Linked DNA regions of Homo sapiens. The protein of the gene in region 2 purifies or fractionates together with the protein of the main gene of each other region. This does not show direct contact. Each region holds a gene or a part of one and is shown on either strand. Other genes may lie near its edges.

Region 1 (3,823 bases), on a different chromosome or scaffold from region 2:
GAGGGCTGGGCATGGTGGCTCATAACTTTAATCCCAGCACATTGGGAGAGAGGGCAAGGTGAGAGGATCACTTGAGTCCAGGAGTTCAAGACCAGCCTGGGAAATAAGGTAAGACCCCCATCTCTAAGAAAAATAAAAAATTAGGCAGGGCACGGTGGCTCATGGCTATAATCCATCCCAGAACTTTGGGAGGCCAAGACGGGTGAATCACTTGAGGCCAGGAGTTCGAGACCAGCCTGGCCAACATGGTAAAATCCCGTCTCTACTAAAAATACAAAAATTGGCTGGGCCTGGTGGCATGCACCTGTAATCCCAGCTACTCGGTAGGATGAGGCACAAGAATCATTTGAAACTGGGAGGGAGAGGTTGCAGTGAGCCGAGATAGCGCCACTGCACTCCAACCTGGGTGACAGTAAGACTCTGTCTTAAAATAAATAAATAAATAAATAAAAATAAAAAATTAGCTAGGTGTCGCGGCACACACCTGTACTCCCAACTACTAGGGAGGCTAAGGTGGGAGGATCGTTTGAGCCCAGGAGGTTGGTTAAGGTTGCAGTGAGCCATGATCTTGCCACTGCACTCTAGCCTTGGGTGACAGAACAAGACCTTTTCTCAAAAAAAAAAAAAAAAAAGGAATATTTTAGCTAGCTAGCTAGAAAAATGAACTCTGACAGAGCACACTAGGACCCCAAATAACCAATTCAGTTTCTACCAACAGTTCTCAAACTAATGTGCATAAAATCTCTTGAGATATTTGCAAAAAATGAAGATCCCTAAGCTCCACTCTCAAGGACCATATCAGAGATCTCAAAGGATACTCAAGAATCAACATGTTTAATAAGCATCCCAGACGACTGTTATATAAGGATTGCGCTTTGACAAACACTGGTCAATACAATATTTCATCTAATGATGGTGTTAATGATTTCTTGTTCCCAGGCTGCACAGCAAAACCATCACTAGCTGATATATTGCCAGCCATGTTAAGTCAGTATCCCAGATTTCGTGCTTACCCTTTTAGCAACTTTTTTTTTGTTTATTTGGCCAGGCCTGGTGGCTCATGCCTGTAAATCCCAGCACTATGGGAGGTCGAGGTAGGGGGGATCACTTGAGCCCAGGAATTCAAGACCAGCCTGGGCAACATCTCTACTAAAAAAAAAAAAAAACTAGCTGAGCATGTTAGTGCGTAACTGTAGTCCCAGCTACTTGTGGGGCTGAGGTGGGAGGATTGCTTGAGCCCCCGAGGTCAAGCCTGCTATGAACCATGATCACACTATTGCTCTCTAGCCTGGGAGACAGAGCTGTCGGAGACCCTGTCTCAAAAAAAAGCTGGGGGTGGAAATTTGATAAGGAGCTCTGCCCATGCCAAAACGAAGCTAGAACTGTCTTTGAGAAATGAGTAGCTCACAGCAAAGTGAATACTTGTTTGAATTTTCAACTTCATAATACTGAATTACGAGCAATAAACATGATTTAAGGGCTTACGTTCTAGCCACCATGCTTTCTGCTTTATAAACATTATTTCAATTAATCCTTACAAAAATCCATTAAGGATGGTATTCTTTACATTTTACAAAAGAAGAAACTGAGGCAATCCTGCCATTAAGCAATACTACCAGAAGTCAGGTCTGCCTGACTTTAAACTGTGACTCTTAACCTGTATGCCAAAAGTGCCTCTACCGTTAAAAACTTAAAAAGAGAAGAACAATCTAGTTTGTTTACTTCTAAGGTAAAGAATATCCTACTTTATACAAAACAGGTTCATTTAACTAATTCTCCTCCCCAGTCTAACTAAACACAGACAAAAAGTAGGACATCTTGGCAAGTTGGGGCTAATGTGTAACCACAGTATCCTAATTTCAAGTCAGGACTCAACAGTCAGCTTCCACCCAGCCCAGTCAATCAGATTTATGAGTATACTGAACAGCTATCAAAAGAACTTGTTTTCCTTGTTTCCTAAAAGGCTATCATACCTACATTCTGTTAATGCTAGGATATTTTTTAACTACCCAAATAATTTAGGGTAGGGAGGACAGCCATCAAGAAGCACCTTCATGTAACTCTATCCGTGCCCTTCTTTGTGCCCTGGCCTTTCCTATTTCTATAAATCATGTTTCTCAGTACATCCAATTACCAAACTCCTCCCCGCAACAGCCAATGTACTATTTTCAGAAATTTGCAAAGAGATTTGCATTAGGATGCAGGGGCCCGTTTTTTAGTGTACATGAAATGCTTCAAAAATGCTTCGCAGCTATGCACTAATAACCTAAATTCTTAAAATGAAATGCATTCACTACTCCACTCAGAAGCTATAATGTAATAAAAACTAAACACTCATTTTCTTCATTTCACCTTTAACCATGGCATTACTTAGCAGCCAACTTGAACTAAAAACAAACAAACAAAAAATACTGCTAAGACTAAAATAAAGCGATAGTGGATAAGGTTAAGTGATAATGCGAGAAAAACCCAGATAGCAATCAATGAATCTACCTGTTCTTGGAAAGGAGAAGCAGCACCTTATTCATTGTATTTCCATAAGAGAGGATTACCATTCCAGTCTCTAGAAGGAAAGAGAATTCTCTCCACTATAATGACACCTCTCCAAGGAAGAGTAGCTTATCCCAAGCTTTTTCAAGACACTGCAAACAGAAAATGCCATTGGGGCTTGGAGCGCGTGGGGGACAGGTTGCTCACTCTGGTCAAGGCCAGAGTGATAGTCAAGAAACCCTTCTCCCCTAGGTCTCAAATCCAATCACAAGGGCAGAGGGAATCGATCTCTGCCCATCTGTGGCCCATTTTCTGCATGGGATGCTGTCTGTTCCAATTCACGAGATCGGGTAAATCACTACTTCCAAGCAGCATGGACTCTTGGGTCCTGTACTTTGTTAGATCCCACTGCCCTCAAGCAGAAGGCAAGTCAATCCTACCCTATTATGGTGGCACACTAGGAAAAACCTCAGAGGCCACAAATGTTCTCCTCTTTTCTAACCAAGGAGAGTGCTAGGTATTCCCATTTGCGTAGTAAGCCAGATGTGCTGTCATTTGCACTTTTTAGACTCAGCTTTCCCTGTGGCATGCTCAGACTCAAAATCCAGATTTGCGGAAAGTAGTAAGCTGCCTAAGCTTCAGCTTCCAAAACAGTTTTCCGTAAGTCCTGTTTTGGTATAGTAAAGCTGATGTTATACTTAAATAAAATTTATGGTAATCTGTTACATGGGTGGCCCCAAATGGATTCACACATTTGTACCCTTGAACCTGGGCTAGATTTGTGACTTGCTTTAACCAGTATAATAAGGCAGAAATGATACTGTATCCCTTACAAGTCTAAACCTTAAGAAGATCTGGTTGCAGACCAGGCACGGTGGCTCACGCCTGTAATCCCAGCACTCTGGGAGGCCGAGGCGGACAGATCACCTGAGCTCAGGAGTTCCAGACTAGCCTGTCCAACATGGTGAAACCCCATCTCTACTAATACAAAAATTAGCTGGGCATGGTGGTGCACGCCTGTAATCCCAGCTACTCGGGAAGCTGAGGCAGGAGAATTGCTTGAACCTGGGAGGTGGAGGTTGCAGTGAGCCAAGACTGAGCCACTGCACTCCAGCCTGGGTGACAGAGTGAGACTCCCTCTCAAAAAAAAAGATCTGGTTGCTTCTGTTTTGTACTCTTGTGAGCCCTAAGCCATCAGCTACCAGGTAAGGCCAGCAACTCTGCTGGAAAGGCTACTTGGAGAGAAAAGCAGCCATTAGAGTGATCACCAGCAAAACCTGCCCAACTGAGCCCAACCCAGGAAAGCAAAACTGTAACAAAGAAAATGGTTGTT
Region 2 (3,823 bases):
TCAAGTAACATTCTTTTTCTCAAATTGACTGGTGAGTACATAAGTGTTAGTCATAATGTTATTCTTTAGACCTTTCTACACAGTTTGTAAGCATTCGTTTGCATCTAGGGGCTATTTCATTAAAGTTATTTCAAAAGATGGTCACAACACAAATTTAATAAGAAACTCTCATATCAAATTGCTGCAGTTCCTGCCATATCTTTTCTAGTTGCTGGGCAAAGATGCTCTCCTCAATTGTAATTGGTGTGCTCTTAAACCCACTTAAAATTCTAAGAGCTTCTCCCCAGACCACTCCAAAACATTCTTGTGAGAATCTTTCCAGTGAGGTACAGCAAGGCCCAACCTCCAGGGCACATTATGCTCTGGCTCATTTATTTGATACAATCATAATCATAGTGGGTTTTTTTCTCAAACTTTGAAATCTTCAAAATGAGGGCATGGAGCAAATGACTACATTCTGCTTCTCTTGCTAAGATTTCAATGGTGATGCTCTCATTTTAAGTTCTTTACCAGACGCTTCAGCTGTGCTATGCCCAATTCCCCTCATCAAGATTTGCTGACAGTCAGGGGAAGTTTCTAACACTGTATTAAGTGTATACTGAGGGCCAGGGAATTGGGGGGAGTTTGAGGGGCTGCACACATGTGCAATTTTTTAGCAAACCCAGCAGATGCTTGTAGATTCAACACTTTTTCAGTTATTTGTGAACAACCCCTAATAGCCACACCACATGGCAATTTGTCTTTTCTCTGGAGCACAAATGTGAACTGTATGTTGCAAAGCCACAGCAAAGAACAAGTCACTTAGCTAGAGAGGGAGTCTTCTCAAAGACCCAGTAACCCCATCCCAAGATGCCACCAGGGAAACAGAAACTCTCTGGAGGTGAAAGAAACTTAATTTCCTTGAGTGCAAATTGAAAAGGCAAATAATTGGTAGCCTGTGAATAGTCATAGGAACCTCTTCACTCTGGAATGGAACCTGATTCAGGAGGAAGTCAAGAGCCTATGCAAATATTTCTGCATTTGCAAACTTGGGGATTTGCCAAGGGCTTGAGATGTATCCACTGAAAATGTCAAGCGTCTACTGTGTAGAATTTTGATGGAGGAGGATTTCAAAATTCTTCTTCTATTTAAATCCAATCAATTCATGTTTATCAGGGCATCTCTGATCTTTTTGTTTTTAAGAGACATATTTGCTCTATTGTCCAGGCTGGAGTACAGTGATGTGATCATAGCCCATGGCAGGCTCAAACTCCTGGACTCAAGAGATCCTCCCGCCTCTGTCTCCTGAGTAGTTAGAATTACAGGTGTGAGCCACCATGTCCATAATTTTATTTTTATTTTTTTTAAGACAGGGTCTTGCTATGTCGCCCAGGCTGATCTCAAACTCCTGGGCTCAAGTGATCCTCCTGTGTCAGCCTCCTGAGCAGCTGGCATTACAGGCATGAGCCACTGTATCCAGCTCCTCTGATCTTAAGATAGTTTCAACATCTAATGCTAAGCCTGGAAGTCCAATGAAAGACTCAATAGACTAAAATTGGTGACTGAGATTCGGAGGAGCATATCGTGTGTTTATAACACTGCTTTTATTTTTTCCATATCTTTCTACTATTTGTTTATTAGCTTTTCTTTGGATCTCAGTTATTCATACATAACACATGTTTAAAAAGTTGATCCTAAACCCCAATTCAAGGGTCCACCGATGCTCAGAGATCTCAAGATTTCTGAGACTAGCTTCCCTATACTTCTCCCTGGCTTTGCTCCCCAAATCTGAAAGGCATTTTCAGATCACCCCTACTTCATATTTAGATATAAAGCTTCCCCCTTTATCCACAAGAATTCCAGCTGCACCTGGCATTTCAAAAACACTTAGTAATGAGGAGGGGAGACCCATCAGTCATGTACTCACCACTTCCATTGTTGTCCTGCCTCCCAAGCACATATTTCCAACTGTGAAACCTCCCAACAGGGCAGTCCTCTGGATAGTGTGGTTCAGTCACTTCCCACCACCATGCCTCACCTCCTCTGCCTTCCAAGCCCTCTGGGACTTCAGGGAATACCTTTTCTCCATCATATTACAATTAGATACAGGGAACCTTTGGAGAGTTCTGAGTATTTGTGATTATATTCAATAACCTGTTACTGACAGTTTCTTTTAGTTAAAGAATTTTTTCAAGTAAGTTACCAAAACAATGAATGTATGTACATCTAGAAACTGAGAAATACTCTTCCATGACTTTTAGTTAGGTCCTCACGTTTTCCACATATGTATTGAATTTTTAAAATACTATTTTAAAAGGGTCTACATTTATTTTCCTCTACTTTTGTTTTTCCTCTTGCCTTTGTTTTGGAGCAAATTTTAACTGAACACATTGTCAGAGGGTCAGGCCAAGTTTGGCACTGCTCGTGTATCTCAGCCACCTTCCAGTTTTCAGCACGATGTCTGAACTGAAAAAACACCATTGCTTACCATAAGGGTGTGGCCATGACAGCTTGAACAACATCCGGGTAGTGGTAAGTCTACATTTGCTACACAGATGTAAGAAACAGATAGCAGTAGGGTCTACCTCTCCTGCTCCATCTTTTCCATCACCAGGTCTCTTCCAACTCCAGAATTAAAGTCATCAAGTTGGAACAACTCTAAGTGTGTTTCCTGATCATAACAAGACAGGTTGAGGTTCATGAATATTTTCTTTAGTATTAAATGTTAGAACATAACCACTAATAATAACAGTAGCATAGTAGTTCCCTGATAAATTTTGACAAAAGATCATAAAGTTCTCAATTTCAACAGCAGGGCTTTATAGTTGTAATATAATTTTGACCAGTAAGCCACCGGCTATCCAGAAACCTCACAGGTGCCATTATCATGGATAGTTGCAGTTTTTTCTCTAAGAATCATGCAAAAAAAAAAAATCTTTTGGGGATACTTCAGAACTCTGTCTTTTTAAATTGGATGAACAAAATATAATTTTAACTTCTATGGATACATGTGGGTCATTGTGAGCATCAGTTACTATGTTATAAAACAGAGTACCAAAGATCCATCAAAATACATAAAATTTCACTGAATTGCTTACATTAAATGCTCATATCAGCTTTAGAATTCCATGCCTTGAATTCTTGTGCCTTTTAAATTTTTTTTTAGTTTTTCTGTTTTTTACTCTTACTTCTTACTGATACTTGATAAAAGAGCTTTAATAATCCTTGCACAGTACAGTATCAGTTGCTTCCAATTTGCTAGGTGCATTTGACAAACTAATAACCAAGCCTCTTAAAACTTGAAGTAAATGCAGAGGCCTGAAAGAGGGTATAAAATTTCCTCCAATGATCAAAATTCATAAACTGTAGCTCATGGACTTATGACCTTTCTCTTGATTTGCCATCTAGGTCCCAACTGGATAAGTGAAATTATGTAAATGTGAGTTCCAGATTGTTGTGGTATTATCCTAATACCTATCAACTACATAGCATGTTACTAAACGTATCTCATTTTTCTTCTCAAGATAGTTCAGTGGTCTTGGTAAGGTTATGATGGTTACACCTACTTTACAGATAAGGAAGAAAATTGGTCACGGGCTTTGGCCAAGTCTGACCCAGAATGCTAGTGCTGCCTGTTGATACAGCCAGTGTTTTCCAGCCCTGCCCGCCTAGTGCATCTGCAGATTTGTAAATACACTTTGACTCCACAGGAAACAGGATGGAGAACAGCATGTCAGGGACTCCTTGATGGGCAGGATGGAGGGCAAAAAAGAGCCTTAAAGACATTAGGGAATTCACAGAGTAGGGAGTGAGAGACAAGTTAAATGCTATCCAGTTGTCACAC

What was found.
Region 1: the proteins of HIVEP3 (region 2) and WWP1 purify together in Homo sapiens (affinity purification with western blotting, with the first as the bait; one study listed by BioGRID). This does not show direct contact.

The regions. Positions count from the first base shown.
Region 1 is NC_000008.11:86,348,849-86,352,671, reverse strand, and holds part of WWP1 (NEDD4-like E3 ubiquitin-protein ligase WWP1), read right to left. Parts: intron 1-3,823. UniProt on the Homo sapiens protein: E3 ubiquitin-protein ligase which accepts ubiquitin from an E2 ubiquitin-conjugating enzyme in the form of a thioester and then directly transfers the ubiquitin to targeted substrates.
Region 2 is NC_000001.11:41,912,236-41,916,058, forward strand, and holds part of HIVEP3 (transcription factor HIVEP3), read right to left. Parts: intron 1-3,823.